Homo sapiens: one gene and its partners. The protein of the gene in region 1 interacts with the protein of each later gene in a biochemical or structural test. Each region holds a gene or a part of one and is shown on either strand. Other genes may lie near its edges.

Region 1 (7,068 bases):
GAAAACATTAGATTATTTGCCTTTTGTTATTTACATAAAGCATCTTAAAAATGTTGCATATGATAGAAATGTCATGCCATCCTATATGTAGAAAATGTCTCGCTCAGTAACATCACTTAAAACACAAATGATACTTTTGGAGGACAATTAGTATTTATTAGTATTCTTGGCCTTAGACACCAATTTGGGTTTCACAGGACTTGATCTTTTCCTCAGCCGGTCAGGAGCGATATCTGGATGTGCACGAAAGCCAAGAAGAGAAGAATTTCATGGCTTAGGGCTAACATGGGGTAACGGTCATGCCGATGGTTAACCCTAGAGCTCCTGAAAGTAAAGATGATGCCAAAGGGCCCATTTCCTCTTGCTCACAATTTGTTTAAGAAGAAAGTACAGAAATATGCTGGGTAAAATAATTACTTGACTTTTACTAGATGGCACCTACACTGATTTTGAAAAAGCCTGTGTTTTATAGAGCACTCTTGGTAACAGTCTCAGATGTGATGCAGTGACTGTCTGCCATGTTTTTGTACAGAGCATGGAAAAGGCCCTTGAATCATAGGTGTAAATGTCCCTTAGAGGAGGGCCTCCTGCTGATTGCCTGAGTTATATTCCCCCTGGACCAATATAGGGGCATCTCAGCTGAAGTACCCTATTCCTTCTTGAGCCAAAAGAATGCCCACAGGGACATGGTTGCTGAGGTAACCAGAGGCAGGCATTCCATTCTTTAATTTTGCTTGAGCATCCTTGAGTTAGTGAAATAGAATTGGTTTTCTTTTTATATTTTTAAAAGAACTTTATTCAGAAAATTGTAAAATAGTATCCCATAGTTTTTGAGCATGCATGTGTTCTAGAGTTAGTTATGGGGCCCTTGTCATTACTAGAGTATATTAATATTTTTAATACTTGTGCTTTTTTCTCATTGGTTTTGTAGGTTAGTATTTATTTACCAGTCTTGAAGACTATGAAGAGTGTTGTGGAAAAAATGAAAAACATCAGCAATCACCTTGTAAGTCACAACTTCTTTAGAAAAGAACTCTGAAGTATTTGGTGGGACGGCGTGGGTTCTCCAGCTCACCCTGCAGCAGTCCATGCAGGTGGGCACCTCCTAACCGAGTTCCCACTTATGAGGACCTGGCCTGGTGCTGAGAACCTGCAGATTGCTAGTTGGATTTAGAAACCTATTCCAATACTTTTCAACTCTAATTCTTTGAGGAAAGCTTTTATATTTGCCTTTAATCTGCCTGTTTTTCCTCTTATATTTTGTATGAAACATTGTATCTTTCTTTTTTTTTTTTTTTTTTGAGACAGAGTCTCACTCTGTCGCCCAGGCTGGAGTGCAATGGCGCCATCTCACCTCACTGTAAGCTCCGCCTCCCGGGTTCATGCCATTCTCCCACCTCAGCCTCCCGAGTAGCTGGGACTACAGGCGCCTGCCACCATGCCTGGCTAATTTTTTGTTTCGTATTTTTAGTACAGACGGGGTTTCACCGTGTTAGCCAGGATGGTCTCGATCTCCTGACCTCGTGGTCCGCCCGCCTAGGCCTCCCAAAGTACTGGGATTACAGGCGTGAGCCACCGCGCCCGGCTGGAACATTGTATCTTTTACCTGCTAACGTGCCCGTATTTTTCTGTGAGTCACTGATATGACTGACAGTGAGTTTGGAGTTTCCTGTCTGCGTGCCAAGTGTCTTTCAGTGAGCCAGGGACAAAGATATGCCACACCATAGCAGCCTTTATTCCAAGCACACCTCACACCAAGCTAGGGGGCACTTTTATATTTCTGTTTATTTTCTGTTTATTTTGTGGAAGTCTCCTATGGCCACATGGCTCGAAATGTTACAGTGTGTGACAGTGGTGGGAAATGTGTAGGTTATCCTCATTCATACCTGGGGTTATTGTGAATTCTTCCTTCACTCACTGCCCCTCCCTCCTCCCCCTGCTCCCTCCTATCCTGCTCCAAAAAACACCCTTGGTTATGTCCCTGAATCTTCTAAAAACCACTGTCCACCTGATGAAGCATAAACTTTTGATCTTGACAGTGTACCAGGCCACCTTTATAGCCACATCTCTGTTGTATTGCCACACCCTCCCTGCAGAACGAGGCTGGGTTCTGGTATTCCCCCACAATGCCTCTTCTTTTTTGTTCAGTTTCTTTGCCATTTGACACATGGCTTCTTCTCTCCATCTCCCTGGAAGGCACTTAGCCATTCTCATGCTTCATCACAGACCTTTCCCCACCACCCCTCTGGAAGCTCCTCCATGGAGCTGAGCTGTCCAGTGTACATGGTAAATCACCTGCTAAGATCTCTGAAGGTCTCGTGAACCACCAGCTTCTTGATAAAGGAAACCCCATCTTAATCATCTTTGTGTCCCAGCTGCCCAGTGTGGGATTGCCACTCAGTAGGCAGCAATAAGTGTTGCATGGATCTGGAACAAAATTTAGCTTCAAGAGGTCTTTGAAATCACAAAAGTATTTTGAAGCCTAGAAAATGTACATTTGACTGTTTTTTTCTAGAGTTCTGCACACTAAGAGCAATGCTGTCATTGGACCTGGGTAACTCAAAGCTTTTCCTTCATAACTTAATCTATAAAATCTGTTTTCCATGAAGCAGTGTGCACTGTGCTGACGTTGGTGTCACCTGTGACTGCAGTGATGCTGATCCAGTTGTCAGGCTGGCTTCATCTGGGGATACCCTGGGGACTTCCAGAGAAATTCAGAGAGGCCCAGGAGAGAAAAGACAGGGCTGTTAATTGAAGGATGGCATTTGTTTGTTCTTTCTGTTCAATGAAAATGAGTCAGCAAGGTAGAGAGGTAGAAGGGTAGCTTAGAATCATCAGAGGTGTTTTGTTTTCTCTTTTTTGGAGTTTAAAAAAACATAGAAATATTGTGGAGAGGCTACTACGATCTGGAATTACTAAATGGAAAGTTATCAAGTTACTGTAGCAAAGTACATAATGAGGTCTTCCTGGGTATCCAGAATTCTGTATCTGAATATTACAGGCAGTAGAATTAAGGAAAATGGGTAGACTTAACACACTAAAAATGCCCACCTTCCCATTAGAGATGCCCAGTTACTTCCTTTCATTAAATGCGAGGTGTGACTGATGGGGTGGGTTGTATGTGACTCATGCAGGAGCAGAAAAAGAAGCAAGAACTGGAGGGAATTGACATCATGTTCTAAGACATTGCTTCTAAGTTCTACCATGCGTGTGAATCCCCTGGAATCTGGTTAAAGTGCAGGTTCTGATTTGGGAGGTCTGAGCTGGAGCCTGAGGCTCTGTTTCTGACCAGCTCCTGGGAGATGTCGATGCTGCCTGTCTTCAGACCACATCATGTAGCAGTACTTTGTGATGTGTGCCTGTATTACTCCGTTTTCACGCTGCTAAAAAGATATTACCTGAGACCAGGTAATTTATAAACAAAAGAGGTTTAATTGACTCACAGTCCTGTATAGCTGAGGAGGCCTCAGGAAACTTACAGTCATGACAGAAGGCAAAGGGGAAGCAAGGCACGTCTTAACATGGCAGCTGGAGAGAGAAGAACACAGGAAAAACTGCCATTTTTAAAACCATCAGATCTCATGAGAACTCCCTCACTATCAAGAGAACAGCATGGGAAAAGCTGCCCCCATGATCCAGTCACCTACCACCAGGCCCCTTCTCAGCACTTGGGGATTACAATTCGAGATGAGATTTGGGTGGGGTTGCTGAGCCAAAACAAACCACATCATTGCCATACTATATTGTACTTCAAATGTTATCTGAGAAACGGCTCTGCAGGGTCACCTAATGATAGAAACCAGAGTCTATGTTTAGGAGTCATGATATGGAAGAGGGGAGTCATTGGAGCCACATACCTGGGTTCAGCTCCAGGCTGCGCTGTGCAGTGAGTACCCTAGTGCTGGATACTACCCCAAATGGGGATAACAGTGCAGCTATGACAGGGGCTTCGTCAGTTTTTAAAAATTTAGAGATAATTTTTACTAGGTGCCCAGTATAGTCAGCATTCTATAAACAATAGTTGACTATTTTAAGGAAATCATTGAAAGATCTTACCCTGATACTTAAGAAATCAAGTGTGTTGTTGTGTATAATATCCCAAATAACTGAATCTTAAAATAGACATGAGTGACCAGTGTTCAGAGAATTAGTTGTTTGTTAGTTTCTTCAGTAAGTATTGACTTAAGGCCACCATGTGCTAGGCACCAGGTGTTAATGGTTAGGAGGGAGTTGGAATCTAATGTTCTGTTACTGAGATTCTTAGGAATTTGAAGAAAACACAAGAGAACATTTAAGCCTGAAGTGCATCTAGGCCCATTGCAAGTTGCATTTTTAAATAAGTATTTATTTATTTATATCTAAAACCATTGCTTTTCAAAACAATGGGAATTTACAGATCTTGGGTGTGTGGTTGTTTGGAACAAATGAGCTAAGGTCATGTGTTAGCCTTAGCCCCACTAAGCAGTCTAGCATATTCACAAAGATTGTTTTATATATTTTATTTCAGTCAACTATTGTTCCAGATTGTAGGAAAACGGGTTAGGAAATATAACAATATATTTTTTTGGATTAATGAAAGAAAAGGGTTGAAAATGAGTATTTCTCATTCAAAGTAGATTATACAACAGGTAAGTTTGGGGCACTATTTTTCTATTAATGTGAAAAGCTCAGAAATAAGAGCTCACCCAAATTAGAAAAACTTTGTTTCTGGAATGAAAACTATTCAGAGTTCACCAATTTTAAGGAATAAGAACAAGGAACACTAAATTGTATTCAGTAAACATGAACACTGATACAGAGCCGTGCAGACAGAGTGCCTTCTCTGTTTTCTTTCTGTGACACTGTGAGGATGGAATGGCCCTAAATAAGACCAGTTGCTAGGTGGCACTTTTCTAGTACTAGATGGCAAAATGCTATCCAGCAGACTACACACTGGCTTTCCAGAGACCTCCTAGGCTTTAACATTGGGCAGATATCAACATCAAAAAGAGAAATAACAGGTACTGGTTCTTTTAGGAGGAAATTTCATTGTAGGTGCGGGAGTGGACCAGGATAGGTTAGCAAAACCTCAAACCATACTGTGGCATATGCTTCACTTCTAGGTTCCATCCAATTAAAAGAACTGATTGGTTGTTGGGGTGGGTAGAGGAGCTTCAAAGGAAAGGAGTCCCTTGTGACCTGTGGAGACAGTCCCCGGGCAGCAAGAGCAGGAGTAGAAGAGGGGTGCCCGATGGTATATGAGGGGATGGCAGAAGTCTGGTAGCCTGGGCGTGTGGAGTTTGGCTCAGCCATCCTCAGTCCTGGTAACCCAACAGCAGCCCCAGACCCTTCTGGATTTGGACATTTCATTTTCCAACATGTGAGTTTATTTTCTAAATAAATGGCTATGTTCTCATGAGATTCTGAAGGCCTTATAGTCATATTAAATGTGTGTTTATGACAAATGGTTGATTTATATTTTATAAAAATAAGACACTGATTTCCACATTCTTCTCATTTTCCCCCTTCCTGTTTTGTAATGGTTATATTATGTCTACATCATCAGAGCATAAAATTTTATTACTACACGTTATTCTGTCCTCTTCATTCCTGTTGTTTAGTTTTGGTTCTAAAGGTCAAAATAAGGCTCACACTGTTTATGCTGTAACTTCTCCAATGATTTTTTTGGTTATTAAAAGCCTATTCTCTAGCATATCACTCAAGAAGGACTCACAGGAATAGGATTTCATTGGTTATCATGTGTTTATAATGTCAGTTTGGCTCACTGCACTGCATTGTCTGCTGGTGTATATTATTGCTATCAAAAAGAATGACTCCATTCTGATTTTGTTTCACAGCTTGGATTTATTCATTTGAAAGTGGGGACTAAATACCCTGGGGATTTTTCCCATTTTTCTTTCAATCCAATTGTCTTGACCATCCGGGGTCAGTTTTCCCAGGTGTGTGGTGTGTCCTTTCAATATGTGGGCCGAACTCTTCATTCACTTCAGGAAAGTTTTGAGCTGTAGTTGATAGCATTTCTTTTCCAGTGCTTTGTTTTTCTTCTGGGACTCAGAGGGCTTGGATCTTCTCCACTGTCTTTATTATTTTCTGTCAGATCCTTTTAACTCTTTGTTTCTGTTTGGTAAATTTTATCTTTCTCCTTTCCATCCCAGTTTCTCTTACTATTCTCTCTGTGGTGCCTATTTGCTCTAGTCTTCCTTCTAAACTAGTTTCTGTTTCTGAAATTTTTCCTTATGTTTCTAATTACTTCCTGTGCTGTCAGCTGTGTTTTATGTGCGTGCTCTCTGGTCATCTCATGTCTGAGCTTCCCTAATTCTGATTTATGTTGTTGTGTCATAGCGTCTATTATTGTTCATTTCTCTTTTTTTTTTTTTTTTTTTTTTGAGACAGAGTCTCGCTCTTTCACCCAGGCTGGAGTGCAGTGGCGCAATCTCGGCTCACTGCAAGTTCCGCCTCCCGGGTTCATGCCATTCTCCTGCCTCAGCCTCCCGAGTAGCTGGGACTACAGGCGCCCGCCACCACGCCCGGCTAATTTTTTGTATTTTTAGTAGAGACGGGGTTTCACCGTGTTAGCCAGGATGGTCTTGATCTCCTGACCTCGTGATCCGCCCGCCTCGGCCTCCCAAAGTGCTGGGATTACAAGCGAGAGCCACCGCGCCCGGCTGGTTTTTCTGGTTCTTTTAGGAGGAAGTTTCATTGTAGGAGTGAAAGTGGACCAAAATAGTTTTCTAATTTAATGACTCTAGAATTCTCTATTCTTTGTAACCACAAAATATTAAAACATGCATCCTCACCACATCCCCAGGACTTTCTGAGATCTGTCCCTCTTTTTCCTTCATTTAAAGTTTCATTCCCTTTTTTTTGCCCAAGGTGCCCATTCTGCTTAGTTGAGGCTCTTACTTCCCGTGGTTCCTTCTCAGTGCAGGACTCTCTCCTGCTGTGAGGGAGTTCTCATCAGCTCCACCCAGCCCTCCCTAGAGCCCTGCCCTTGTGCTGCTGTAGTCTCCTGGCAAGTCCTCTCGGAGTTCCACCTGTTTTCACATCTTCACTGAGTTCTTCATTCCG
Region 2 (7,000 bases), on another chromosome or scaffold:
GGCTGGTTATAAACTCCTGACCTCAGGTGATCTACCCTCCTCGGCCTCCCAAAGTGCTGGGTTTACAGGTGTGAGCCACTGTGCCCGGCCTTGTCACCTCATAAAGGTCCTACCTCTCAACACTTGCATTGGGGATTTAGTTTTCAACACGTGAACTTTGGGGGACACATTCAAACCATAGCAGTGGCAAAAAAAAAAAGCCCTAGCCCCAACAAAACAAAAATACCACCATCAATAAAAATCAAATATAGGCCTGGGTGCAGTGGCTCACATCTGTAATCCTAGCACTTGGGGAAACTGAGATGGGCAGATCTCTTGAGCTCAGAAGTTCAAGACCAGCCTGGCCAACATGGCAAAACCCTGTCTAGACAAAAATTACAAAAATTAGCCAGGCATTGGGGCTCGCTCCTGTAGTCCCAGCTACTTGGGAGGCTGAGGTGGGAGGATCACTTGAGATCTCCCACCTCAGAAGTAACAGTGAACCAAGATCACACTACTGCACTCCAACCTGGGTGACAGAGGGAGACCCTGTCTCCCCACACACACACACACACACACACACACAAACTAATGAAAAAATAAGTAAACAGGCAAATAAAAATAAACTAAAAGAGAATCTTAATTAGATTGGAGGGGATCTTCAGGTGATTAAATACTGAAGGAAAGTAGGGGCACAAATTGTATTTGGGGACATCTTAACCCTGTATGGGTTGATAGACCTTTCAAGTCTGTCTACTAGAAAACTCCCTCAAATCTTATTTCAGAGAAAGTATGGGCTGACTTGACAGGACTGATCAGTTTTATCAGTGACACATCTTATCATTTAAACAGTGCAAGAGTTAATGGTTGGTTATTAAGCACTCAGTAAAGGTTGGTGAACATGTACATACAGGACTAGATCTCTCCTCTGTAATCCACTCTAAATAAATACTTCAGTCTGGTTACAAAATACTTAATACTGTACTGAAGATTTTTGTACAGCTGATCATTTGGATTTACATTTGGGTAATTTTATCATTACATCTCATGCTTCATTATTCTTTCAGCTATTCCCTTCAGCAAGCTCAAGCTTTTTATACGTTTCCATTTCAACAACTGATGGCTGAAGCTCCTAATATGGCAGTTGTGAATGAACAGCAAATGCCAGAAGAAGTTCCAGCCCCAGCTCCTGCTCAGGAACCAGTGCAAGGTAGTTTCACCATGAGAGCTTAGAAAGTTCAACATCGGATCAGCCAGCTTATTTGAGAAAGGGTTTCATGGTGAATTTTAGCTCTATTTTAGTGTTAAAAAGTCAAATCCACTTTTTAAGTACTTAGTATGTGCTAAGCACTGATAGGTTCTGGGGAATAAAAGAACATGGGTCCTGCCCAAAAATATCTCATAATCTAGTAGAGAAAAGTAATAAGTAAATACACGTTACAGCTCAGCACAGTTTGTAGTGAAGAGGGGCATAGAATGAATGCCCTGAAAGCTTATGGGGTTGGCTTCTAACTCAGACTGATGGCTCAGAGGCTGCTTCCCAGAGCAGAGAAATAACACCAGGGCTCTGAAACTCCAACAATGTGGAGGCTTCATCCCGATAAAGATCAGAGTAGGGACATGTCCAGGCTGAGGGAGCTATACAGGCTGGGTACAGACACACACAAGCATGGCATGGCCAGAAACAGAGCAATTCTGTGTCCTTGGAGTCTGGGATATAACAAGGAAATGGTGAGAGGTGAGGCTGGATGGGGACAGTTGAAACTTGTTTTTTAATCCCAAAGAATTTATATTCTATCATGAAGGCAATAGGGAGCTGTTGAGAGAATGTAAGCAAGGGATGACTTACTTGACTGGTGCTTTACAAATTAGCCTGGAAATATTAGAGAAGATAGATTGGTTGGTAGACAACAAGTCGGAACTTGGAGGCAGGCCGGGCACAGTGGCTCATACCTGTAATCCCTGCACTTTGGAAGGCTGAGGCGGGTAGATCACCTGAGGTCAGGAGTTCATGACCAGCCTGGCGAACATGGCAAAACCCTGCCTCACACAAATTAGCCGGGCATGGTGGCGCACACCTGTGATTCCAGCTACTGGGGAGGCTGAGGCACGAGAATTGCTTGAATCCTGGAGGCGGAGGCTGAGAGGCTGCAGTGAGCCAAGATTGCACCACTGCACTCCAGCTGGGCAATAGTGCGAGACTCTGTCTCAAAAACAAAAACAAAAACAAAAACAAAAACAAAACTTGGAGTCAAGGAGTGGATTAGATGGATTAGAGACACTGTTTGAATAATCTAGGGGAGCACTGAGGAGGACCTGAAGGGGTGGAGAAAGAATTAGGAAACACTTAGGAGGTAGAATTACCTAGCCATGGCTAATGGGTTTCATGTGTTTGGGGGGAGCATGGCAGGATAGTGGGGGAGAAAGGGGAGTCCAGAAGTAACTACCAGGTTTCTGGCATTGGCATTTGGTTGGAGGAGGTGCCACTCACCAAGACAGAGAATTAGAAGAAAATAATAGGTTCCAGGGGTGGGAGAGTGGTTGGAGAGAAGTTAATGATTTTCTCCAGTGTAACAGTATTTTATGAGAAATGTGCTCAGGGTTTTGGTTTATGATTGCAGGAACACATCTAATAACTCTGCCTCCGCATTAGGACTTCCCCAGCTACATGCCAGTGATGGTGGATCTGTTGGCATAGGGAGTGGCTAAGACAATGTGAGGCAGAAGAGAGGAGGGACTGACTGCCTGTATCCTGCGAGGCTTGATTGGGGAAACGCCAAAGAGGAGTAGAATAGGGTAGAAGCCTGAGTAGTTAGGAGAAATGTTAAATAATTAAGGGTAAGAAAATCAGGGCTTCCTGTTGGGTAACTATAGGTCAGTGGTTTTCAATCAAGGGTGATTTTGCCCTCCCAAGGGACATTTGACATTGTCTGAAGACACTTTTGATGATCAAGACTGGCAGGTTACTACTGGCATCTAGTGGGTAGAGATCAGGGGTGCTATTAAACATTCTGTAATGTGCAGTACAGCCACCCACAACAAAAAATTATGCAACCTAAAATGTCAATAGTGTGGAGGCTGAGAAACTGCTTTACGTCCTGAGGTTGGATCCCTCCTCTTGCCTTTTGAAAAATACTGCCAGCCCAGAGATGTCATCCTGGGCACCCCTAAATTCCCCTCTTCAACTATGTATGGAACAGAATATACACCTCATCTCTAAAACAAGCCCACAAGCCATTGTGTTTTTCTTTTTTCTTTCTTTTTTTTTTTTGGACAGAGTCTTGCTCTGTTGCCCAGGCTGGAATGCAGAGGCATGATCTCAGCTCACTGCAACCTCCACCTCTTGGGTTCAAGCAATTCTCCTGCCTCAGCTTCCCGAGTAGTTGGAATTACAGGTGCACGACACCATGCCTGGCTAATTTTTGTATTTTTAGTAAAGACGGGGGTTTCACCATGTTGGCCAGGCTGGTCTTGAACTCCTGACGTCAGGTGATCTGCCTGCCTTGGCCTCCCAAAGTGCTGGGATTACAGACATGAGCCACCATACCTGGCCCATTTGTGGTTTTCTACTGGGGAAGTTGAGTTAAAATGTTTCCCTTCCTTCCTGTTTCTCTATTTTTCTGTTCTTATTTAATTATTTATGTATTTACATTTAGAATTTATATAAAATGATATGTAGATACTTTGTATCCTTGAGGAGGTTAAGATGCCAAGTAATACTGTGTCGAAAATAATAGTCTATGATTATTCTTCCCACGAACAGCTAGCAGGGGAAGGAGAGTGGCATGGGGGGTTGCACGAACCCAGTTCTAGGGAGAAAGAAAGGGAAGATATTGCAGAGGAGACTCATGTTGGGACTGTAAGAGCTTAATTTTGGGGAGACAGGTACAAAAGGTGCTAGTTGGGTAACTTTTCTGGGAAAGCTGCTAAAGTTTCTAAGTTAAGATTTTCTGCATTTCTGGAAATTATTTGTATTTCAGAGGCTCCAAAAGGAAGAAAAAGAAAACCCAGAACAACAGAACCAAAACAACCAGTGGAACCCAAAAAACCTGTTGAGTCAAAAAAATCTGGCAAGTCTGCAAAATCAAAAGAAAAACAAGAAAAAATTACAGACACATTTAAAGTAAAAAGAAAAGTAGACCGTTTTAATGGTGTTTCAGAAGCTGAACTTCTGACCAAGACTCTCCCCGATATTTTGACCTTCAATCTGGACATTGTCATTGTAAGATCTTTGTCCTCGTTGGATTTTATAAGTAGTATTGGGGGATCAGCTTTACTTAACAGTTGTCCTTGCAAATAGCATTTTGCTGAAAAGGACCATTTCTAAGAATCCTTTTGGTGGTAAATGGTGTCAGCTTCATGAGGTTGTGTTATATGAGAGTGTTTAAGAGGGTGGGCTCCAAATTTAGACTGTCTGGGTTCAAATCCTGTCACAAGTATAATCTTGGATAAGTCTTATTAACCTTTCTAAACACCGGTTTTCTCATTGATAAACCAGGGGTGATAATACCACCCCCCGATAGGGTTGCAAGTAAATGAGAGAATCCATGTGAATCACTTCAACTGAATGATGCCTGTGGAGACCTGATACATGGCAGCACTAATTTTAAGCTCTTATTTTTCTCAGTAACTGTAAGAAACATCAGCATGTGAACAATTGTGTAGGTGATGTGGAGCGAGCTTCTTGTTGAAAGTTGAGAATCAGAATTGTGGCTGGACATGGGCTCAGATTGATTGTTCCAGGACCTGTCTTTCCAGACTCAAAGCAGCCCAGTTGGTGAGGGTGCGAGGCCTGGGATCATAAAGGAGTCAAACTGGTTTTTTAAAATAACAGCAAAACTTTTAAAATAAAGAAAATCTCTTTCCCATATATGAAATACTTTGTTCAGATCAAGAGTAGTAATTGATAAATGATATTGCTTATGATGCTGAATTAAATTTGTATTTTAATCAACTCAATTTTGTCCACCACTCCTCCATAGAAACGCTAAGGCTTAGGTCCTGCTTTTTAAGATGAAATGTCTAATTGTTTTGTTTTATAGATTGGCATAAACCCGGGACTAATGGCTGCTTACAAAGGGCATCATTACCCTGGACCTGGAAACCATTTTTGTAAGTGGTTACCTTTTAAATTAATTTACTTTTAAATTAGGTATCTTTGTTAACAGGTTTTTTCAGAAAAACCAATTGTGTTTTTAAAAAGAAAGAGACTGTAAATACACATTCGTGTTTCATGTTCTGTGTGTGTGTCTGTACGTGAAAATAAGAGAGTTTGAAATGATATGTTACTGTTAACATTTTAGTCTATGAGAATGGAGGGATGTGAATAAGAGTACTTTCTCTTTTGTTTGAATTGTTTCTAATGAGTTGTACTACTTTTTTTTTTTTTTTTTTTTTTTTTTGAGATGGAGTTTCGCTCTTTTTGCGCAGACTGGAGTGCAATGGCGCGATCTCGGCTCACCACAATCTCCACCTCCCAGGTTCAAGTGATTCTCCTGCCTCAGCCTCCCTAGTAGCTGGGATTACAGGCATGTACCACCACGCCTGGTTAATTTTGTATTTTTAGTAGAGACGGGGTGTCTCCATGTTGGTCAGGCTGGTCTCGAACTCCCGGCCTCAGGTGATCTGCCCACCTCAGCCTCCCAAAGTGCTGGGATTACAGGCGTGAGCTACAACGCCCAGCCAAGTTGTATTACTTTTTAAAAATGATTTTTTAAAAGTTGTTATCTATAGGCATAGTAACGATAGTATAGTACATCTTTGTGGCAGTGCAGACATAATACTAACTTTCCCAGATTTCTGGTGATTATTTTCTAGCAGAGCATAAAATAGTAGTAAAGACTCATATTTTTAGAGTAAGTTTTAAAACCAAGTGTTGGCTGGATCTGGTGGCTCACACCTGTAATCCCAACACTTTGGGAGGCCAAAGCAGGAGGATCACTTGAGGCCAGGAGTTTGAGACTAGCCTGTACAACATACCAAGATCTCATTTCTACAAAAAAATAAATAAAAAATTAGCTGAGTGCTGTGGTGCACACCTGTAGTTCCAGCTACTACGGAGGCTGGGTTGGGAAAATTGCTTGAGCCTGAGAGGTTGAGGCTGCAGTTAGCCATAATTACTCCACTGCACTCCAGCCTAGGTGACAGAACTAGACCCTGTATCACAAAAACAAACAAGAAAACAAACAAAAAACAAGCGTAACTACTGTTGCATTGCCTTCTCTATATAAGTTGTCTTGTATATAAATCATCTTATTTTATACTGCCTAATAGATCAGTGTATGCAGTATACGCTCAGGAAATTGATTATCTAATAGTAACATTCAAAACATTTAGGGCAACTGATAGTAATGTGGTTTTGGAACTAATAATAACATATTGTCCCTATTATTTTAAAAAATTCCTTTTTAAGGGAAGTTTGGACTTTTGACTTTCTTCACTGTCAAGGTGTTTGAATGTTGTTAGTCTAGTGCTGTATGTTTACGTGTGAGGTGGTGGTATCACCAATTGTAAAGCAAAATAGTCTCAAAGTTTCCTAAACTGAGTTGCTATATATTCTTGGGCAGGCATTTGCCTCAACCCCCTGTGAAAAGGAGATAATAATAGTATCTTGCAAGATAATTATGATGATTAAATCCAAGCGCTGTGGCTCACACCTGTAATCCCAGCAATTTTGGAGGCTGAGGTGGGAAGATCACTTGAGCCCAGGAATTCAAGACCAGCCTGGGCAACATGGTGAAACCCTGTCTACAAACAATACAAAAATTAGCTGGGCGTGGTGGTGTGCATCTGGGGTTCCAGCCACTCAGGAGGCTGAAGTGGGAGGATTGCTTGAGCCTCGGTGGTCGAGGCTGCACTGAGCCATGATCGTGCCACTACACTCTAGCCTGGGTGACAGAGCGAGACCCTGTCTAAAAAAAAATAAATAACTGAATTTTCATTTTACAGGGAAGTGTTTGTTTATGTCAGGGCTCAGTGAGGTCCAGCTGAACCATATGGATGATCACACTCTACCAGGGAA
Region 3 (2,870 bases), on another chromosome or scaffold:
TGACTCATGCCTGTAATCCCAGCACTTTGGAAGGCCGGGGTGGGTGGATCACCTGAGGTCAAGAGTTCAAGGTCAGCCTGGTCAACATGGTAAAATCCTGTCTCTACTAAAAATACAAAAATTAACTGGTCGTGGTGGTGCGCACCTATATTCCCAGCTACACGGGAAGCTTAGGCAGCAGAATCGCTTGCATCAGGGAGTCGGAGGTTGCAGTGAGCAGAGACCTGCCATTGCACTCCAGCCTGGGCGACAAGAGCAAAACTCTGTCTCCAAAAAAAAAAAAAAAAAAAAAATACCTGGGCGTGGTGGCAGGCGCCTGTAGTCCCAGCTACTCGGGAAGCTGAAGCAGGAGAATCACTTGAACTGGGAGACAGAGGTTGCAATGAGCCGAGATGGTGCCGCTGCATTCCAGCCTAGACGTCGGAGTGAGACTCCATCCCAGGGGGAAGAAAAAAAGTTATATCCATATGGTGTGATGAAGTGAAAGAGACATCGTCCCCTTTCCTACACATGAGGAAGCTGAAGGCCGGAGAGATGGAATAATTTGCCCAAAGCTTCCTGTTATTATGCCATTAGACAGTTATTTTAGTTTTGTGTTCATTACTACAGTAGACCCCGATTTAAGAGTCTGGTCATCAGATACAGTTTCCTCTCTTAGGTTAGTACTTAGTTAGGCTCACCTCACTTTTTTTTTTTTTTTAAGGTATCACCTGATTTTGATACAGCAGCAGGAAGCTTGTTCCCAGCCTACCAGAAACACCAAAACCGGGCGAGACACTCAAGTCGAAAACCTACCACCTCCAAGTTTCCACATCTAACTTTTGAGAGTCCGCAATCTTCCAGTTCAGAGACATTGGGGATCCCCTTAATCCGAGAGTGCCCCAGTGAATCAGAAAAGGATGTTTCCAGAAGACCCTTAGTTCCAGTGCTCAGTCCCCAAAGCTGTGGGAACATGTCAGTGCAGGCACTTCAGAGCTTACCTTATGTGTTCATTCCACCTGATATCCAGACCCCAGAGTCATCGTCTGTGAAGGAAGAACTCATTCCCCAAGATCAGAAGGAAAACAGCCTTCTAAGCTGCACTCTTCACACTGGCACTCCTAATAGCCCAGAGCCTGGACCTGTTCTGGTTAAAGACACCCCCGAGGACAAGTATGGAATAAAGGTCACATGGAGGAGACGACAGCACCTGCTTGCTTACCTCAGGGAGAGAGGGAAGCTGAGCAGAAGCCAATTCCTTGTGAAAAGCTGACTGCCATCAGTAATCTCAATAGAAAAGAGATATGTTTTCTGGAGTCATAAAGGAATTCAATTCCTAGGGTTTTTGTTTTTGTTTTTGAGATGTAATATTGCTCTGTTGCCCAGGCTGGAGTGCAGTGGTATGATCTCACCTTACTGCAACCACCACTTCCTGGGTTCAAGCGATTCTCCTGCCTCAGCCTCCCCAGTAGCTGGGATTACAGGCACCAGCCACCATGCCTGGCTAATTTTTTTGTATTTTTAGTAGAGATGTGGTTTCTCCATGTTGGCCAGGCTGGTCTCAAAATCCTGACCTCAAGTCATCTGCTGGCCTTGACCTCACAAAGTGCTGGCCCAGCCGAGATTTGTTTTCTAAGATACTTTGTGTCATGAACAGTTCAGTTTAGTGTCATGAACTATTCACTTCATATTTTTCTTGTATTAACTGTTTAAATTTTTAAAATATCTTGTAGTAACTCTTTAAAATGTATGTAAGTAAATGGCTGCAGAAAGTTTTTTTAGAGAATCCTGCTTCCATCAGTAATACAGCAATATTACCCCATCCACTAATGGTCTTTGTTTCCTTAACCACTACTCATTAATCCTTAATCACCTCATTCAAACTAATTCATTCTGCATTTTTGAGTACCAACTCTTGTCAGGCTCAGTGGCAGCTTCTACGACCTGATGGATGGAAAAAAATCAAACTCTGTGACTCTATGGTTGACTGCCACCTCTGCAACCTTGACTCATCTGCTGAAAAGGCAAGAAGAAGAAAGGGCAGCAAGCCCTGTTTTAGGGACTACATAAGATGAGGGGAGATAAGGGGGACATAGATGAGTTCTTTAGGATTGCGTGTGTTTTGAGTTTTTGTTTCTAACTGAAGAAATCTGTCAATATTAAATAGGGTGGGAAAATGGTTTCTTAGAATAACTGTTCAACTGTGTGTAAATAAGGAAAGTTTTCAATGAGTATTACTTATTGTAATTAATGCAGAAGGACTTCCCCAGTCAACCGAATGTCTCGGCCTTTTACTCAGACAAGTAGCATCTCATTAAACCCATTCATTTAGCATTCATTCAGCTGGACCTACTGTGTCAGGTCCAGCCCCAACTAGATCAAGCAGGGATTACTGTATATTTTACAGATGGGAGTTTGATGCAGAGAATGAACCATGCACAGGTCACACAGTGAGTGCACGCTGACCCAGGCAGTGTAACGGTCCACTCTCAGCGTGTGCCTCCTAAAGTACTAACTTGTAGGTTCAAAACCAATGTGGAAACAACTTTGACCTTAGAACGCCATAAAGCCATTTGTGCAGTGACTTGTCAGGACTCAGGATGTTTTGTAGGGACTATAATGTGCATGTCGGTAGGGAGAAAGGGACTGACATTTGGGGACGGGATTTATTGGAGACAAGAGTACACATTTAGACAGGGGCTCTCACGGTGGGCTATGGATGTTTGAGGAAGGCCCACAGGAGGTAGAAAGGTAGATGGAAAGAGTCTCCAGGACGGGCCCACGCCTGTAATCCCAGCACTTTCGGAGGCTGAGGCGGGTGGATCATTTGAGGTCGGGAGTTAAGAGGCCAGTCTGGCCAACATGGTGAAACCCTATCTCTACTAAAAATA
Region 4 (3,272 bases), on another chromosome or scaffold:
ATTTGGAATTGAACGGTTTACATCAAAATTACATTCCTAACGGATTCTAGTTTGTCCTTAAAATGAAATTAGGTGTATTTATAGAGAATTCTGGTAACGCATGTAGTATTAGGTGTTTAGGTTTAGCATAATAAAGGCTAATGCAATACAGAGTTCCAATAACAGTATGTTTTAATCTAATAGGGCAATATTCTAAATAACAAATATCAGAAATGTTAAGCAATTCATTTATTTTTTTTGAGACAGGGTCTCATTCTGTCACCCAGGCTGGAGTTGCAGTGGCATGATTTCAGCTCACTGCAACCTCTGCCTCCTGAGTTCAAGTAATTCTCATGCCTCAGCCTCCCAAGTAGCTGGGACTACAAGCATCAAACAGCATGCCCGGCTAATTTTTTGCTATTTTTTGCAGAGATGGGGTTTCGCCATGTTGTCCAGGCTGGTCTTGAACTTCTGGGTTCAAGCAGTCCACCCACCTTGGCCTCCCAAAGTGGTGGGATTACAAGCATGAGCCACCGTGCCTGGCCTGCAATTCTTTTTTTTTTTTTTTTTGAGATGGAGTTTCGCTCTTGTTGCCCAGGCTGGAGTGCAATGGCGCGATCTCAGCTCACCGCAACCTCCGCCTCCCGGGTTCAAGCGATTCTCCTGCCTCAGCCTCCTGAGTAGCTGGGATTACAGGCATGTGCCACCACACTGGGCTAATTTTTTGTATTTTTAGTACAGATGAGGTTTCTCCATGTTGGTCAGGCTGGTCTCAAACTCCCGACCTCAGACGATCCGCCTGCCTCAGCCTCCCAAAGTGCTGGGATTACAGGCACGAGCCACCGCACCCAGGCCCCTGCAATTCATTTTTTACGTTACATAAATGTTTTGTTGCTTCAACAGAAGAACAGATGCCAGGGTGCTCTTTTAAAAAATTTATCTATGTAAACACATCTTAATACTAATTTGAGTTACTACTTTTATTCTTTATTGTCACATTTTCCAAGTTTTGCGCATTCAAACTTGGCAAACATCATGGAGATTTGTACAAACATACATATACATATATACACACATATTTATAGCCCCAGCTTCCTCATTAAACCTTGTGCTCAGGCTCCTGTTAAAAGAGGTAAAATGGTGAGAAGATAAAAATCAGGGAAAACATGAATAAATGCTGACTGACAAATCTTGTTGTTATGAATTTGTAAGGCAGACATTTTAAAGCAAAATCCATTACCTTGCTAAAATTTCCACTAAGCTACAGCTTCAGATATTTACAAGAAAAATAAATATCTTTTAACAGACTTCAATGTGGTTTAACAGCAAGCTAGCTGAGGAGTTGTATTTTGTTGTTATTTCAGGTAACTTTTTATTAAGAAACAGTTAATATTTCAGTGATTACAATTTCAGGTGTTCAAAACTCAAGAAGGGTCATCATTATACTCTGAAGCAGAATTCTTCAGGTACTCATCTTTAAATTACTACCCAAATCTATCACAGTCACATTCAGGCTTTCAATTTTTAAAAACATTTAATGTTTGGTAACTAAAGGGTAGATGCGATTAGTGTACTCTAGGTCGTTTGATTTTATTTTTTTCTGTAGGAGCTTTCCTCTTTTGTGATAATCCAGTCCCAAGTTCCTTATTATTCTGAATAAATGAAATAGCTTCTGGTAGACAGTAATTTTCTACATGAGGAGGTGATTCCTATAAAAGGAAAAATAAGTGATTTTTTAAAATGATTTCAAACATTTACGTGATCTGGTAATAGATTTTTTCTTTAAATCTCAGACCTCTCAGGGATGAATCTGACAAACTTAAAGGAAAACGCATATTCATTCCTAGGTTCCAGCAAATTAAACAAAATGGACCCTGTGGGACAAAGTCTCACCTTTTATCAAAGAAATACGTGTATGGTTCAGGTAGAGTGGGACTAGCTCAGATCTTACAAACATTTCATATCGGTGTTTTTAATCCCCATTTTTGAGATAAAATAAAAAAGGTTAAATGAAAACAACCAATGTCACATAACTAGCAGGTAGCAAAGCCAAATTTCATAACTGATCTGACTCCAAAACCCTTGCATTTTCCCCCCACAACCATTTCCCAACATAGAAATGGATCTTTTCCTCCTTATTATAAGTGTAATAAAACTTAATTTTCTAGCAATATGGCAGACTGGGCAACCTGAAAATGAATCACCACAAAATACCAAGTAAGTGCCTTTTGATTCAATTCTTCCATGGATAACAGCTACAAATTCTGACCAAAATATATTAAAAGCAACCATAGAGCCTGGAGAATAAACGAACCAAGCAAATGGGGGGCTGGGGACGCAAACACAGTGTATGAAGTAAACTGCCTGTTAAACAACACAGTACTCTTTGGAGGAGCAAAGGAACAATAGAACCTAGAGTTTCTTTTTTAGGGGGAGATAAGGGTCTTGCTGTGTTGCCCAGGCTGGTGGCTGGTCTCAAAAATGACACATTGAATACAAGGGAACAATTCAAATGACCATCACTGATTTCTCAACAGAAACAATGGAGGCCAGCAGACAGTGAAGTCTTTAATAGAAGAAAAAAACCTGTCAATCTATAATTCTGTATCCTGCAAAACTGTCCTTCAACAATGAAGGTAGAATAGACATTTCATACAACAGAAAGCTAGAATTGATCCCCAATCAACCTGCACTCCAAACTAAAGTTAGTTCTTCAGGCTGAAGGAAAATGTTATCAGATGGAAACTCAGATCTTCAGGGAAAACTGACACTCAAACTGGTATACATGAGGGTAATTATAAAATACCATTTTTTATTTTAGTTTCCTCAAAATGCACAGAATTGTTAAAAGCAAAACCTATTTAAAGTAAAATCTTATTTGGGGCTATAAGATGTAGATGTAAAATATATGACAACTACTGCATAAAGCAGAGGTCAGCACACTTTCTGTAAAGGCTCAGACAGAAACATTTTAGATTTTGTGGGATAGATGATTTGTGCTGAAACTACTTAACTCTGCCATTATAGTGCAAAAGCAGCCATAGAAAATACATAAATGAATGAGTATGGCTGTTTTCCAACAAACCTTTATTTATAAAATAGGCAGTGGGCCAGGTTTGGCCAGGTGGCTATAGTTTACTGACCCCTGGTATAAAGGACAGGGGAAGCAAATGAACCAACTTGGATGCAAGAGATCTACCTTTTTTCATTTTTTTTTTTTTTTTTTTTGAGACAGAGTTTCGCTCTTGTCACCTAGGCTGGAGTGCAGAGGCACGATCTTGGCTCACTGCAGC

What was found.
Region 2: the proteins of HUS1 (region 1) and TDG form a complex in vitro, tested with the Homo sapiens proteins (one study listed by BioGRID).
Region 3: the proteins of HUS1 (region 1) and RHNO1 form a complex in vitro, tested with the Homo sapiens proteins (2 studies listed by BioGRID).
Region 4: the proteins of HUS1 (region 1) and TOPBP1 form a complex in vitro, tested with the Homo sapiens proteins (one study listed by BioGRID).

The regions. Positions count from the first base shown.
Region 1 is NC_000007.14:47,969,551-47,976,618, reverse strand, and holds part of HUS1 (checkpoint protein HUS1), read left to right. Parts: intron 1-931; coding exon 932-1,006; intron 1,007-7,068. UniProt on the Homo sapiens protein: Component of the 9-1-1 cell-cycle checkpoint response complex that plays a major role in DNA repair. The 9-1-1 complex is recruited to DNA lesion upon damage by the RAD17-replication factor C (RFC) clamp loader complex.
Region 2 is NC_000012.12:103,975,872-103,982,871, forward strand, and holds part of TDG (G/T mismatch-specific thymine DNA glycosylase), read left to right. Parts: intron 1-1,046; coding exon 1,047-1,189; intron 1,190-3,959; coding exon 3,960-4,201; intron 4,202-4,283; exon of another isoform or gene 4,284-4,756; intron 4,757-5,021; coding exon 5,022-5,091; intron 5,092-6,927; coding exon 6,928-7,000. UniProt on the Homo sapiens protein: DNA glycosylase that plays a key role in active DNA demethylation: specifically recognizes and binds 5-formylcytosine (5fC) and 5-carboxylcytosine (5caC) in the context of CpG sites and mediates their excision through base-excision repair (BER) to install an unmethylated cytosine.
Region 3 is NC_000012.12:2,887,208-2,890,077, forward strand, and holds the end of RHNO1 (RAD9, HUS1, RAD1-interacting nuclear orphan protein 1), read left to right. Parts: intron 1-703; coding exon 704-1,252; 3' UTR 1,253-2,317; downstream 2,318-2,870. UniProt on the Homo sapiens protein: Involved in microhomology-mediated end-joining (MMEJ) DNA repair by promoting recruitment of polymerase theta (POLQ) to DNA damage sites during mitosis.
Region 4 is NC_000003.12:133,599,706-133,602,977, forward strand, and holds the end of TOPBP1 (DNA topoisomerase 2-binding protein 1), read right to left. Parts: intron 1,689-3,272; coding exon 1,545-1,688; 3' UTR 533-1,544; downstream 1-532. UniProt on the Homo sapiens protein: Scaffold protein that acts as a key protein-protein adapter in DNA replication and DNA repair. Composed of multiple BRCT domains, which specifically recognize and bind phosphorylated proteins, bringing proteins together into functional combinations.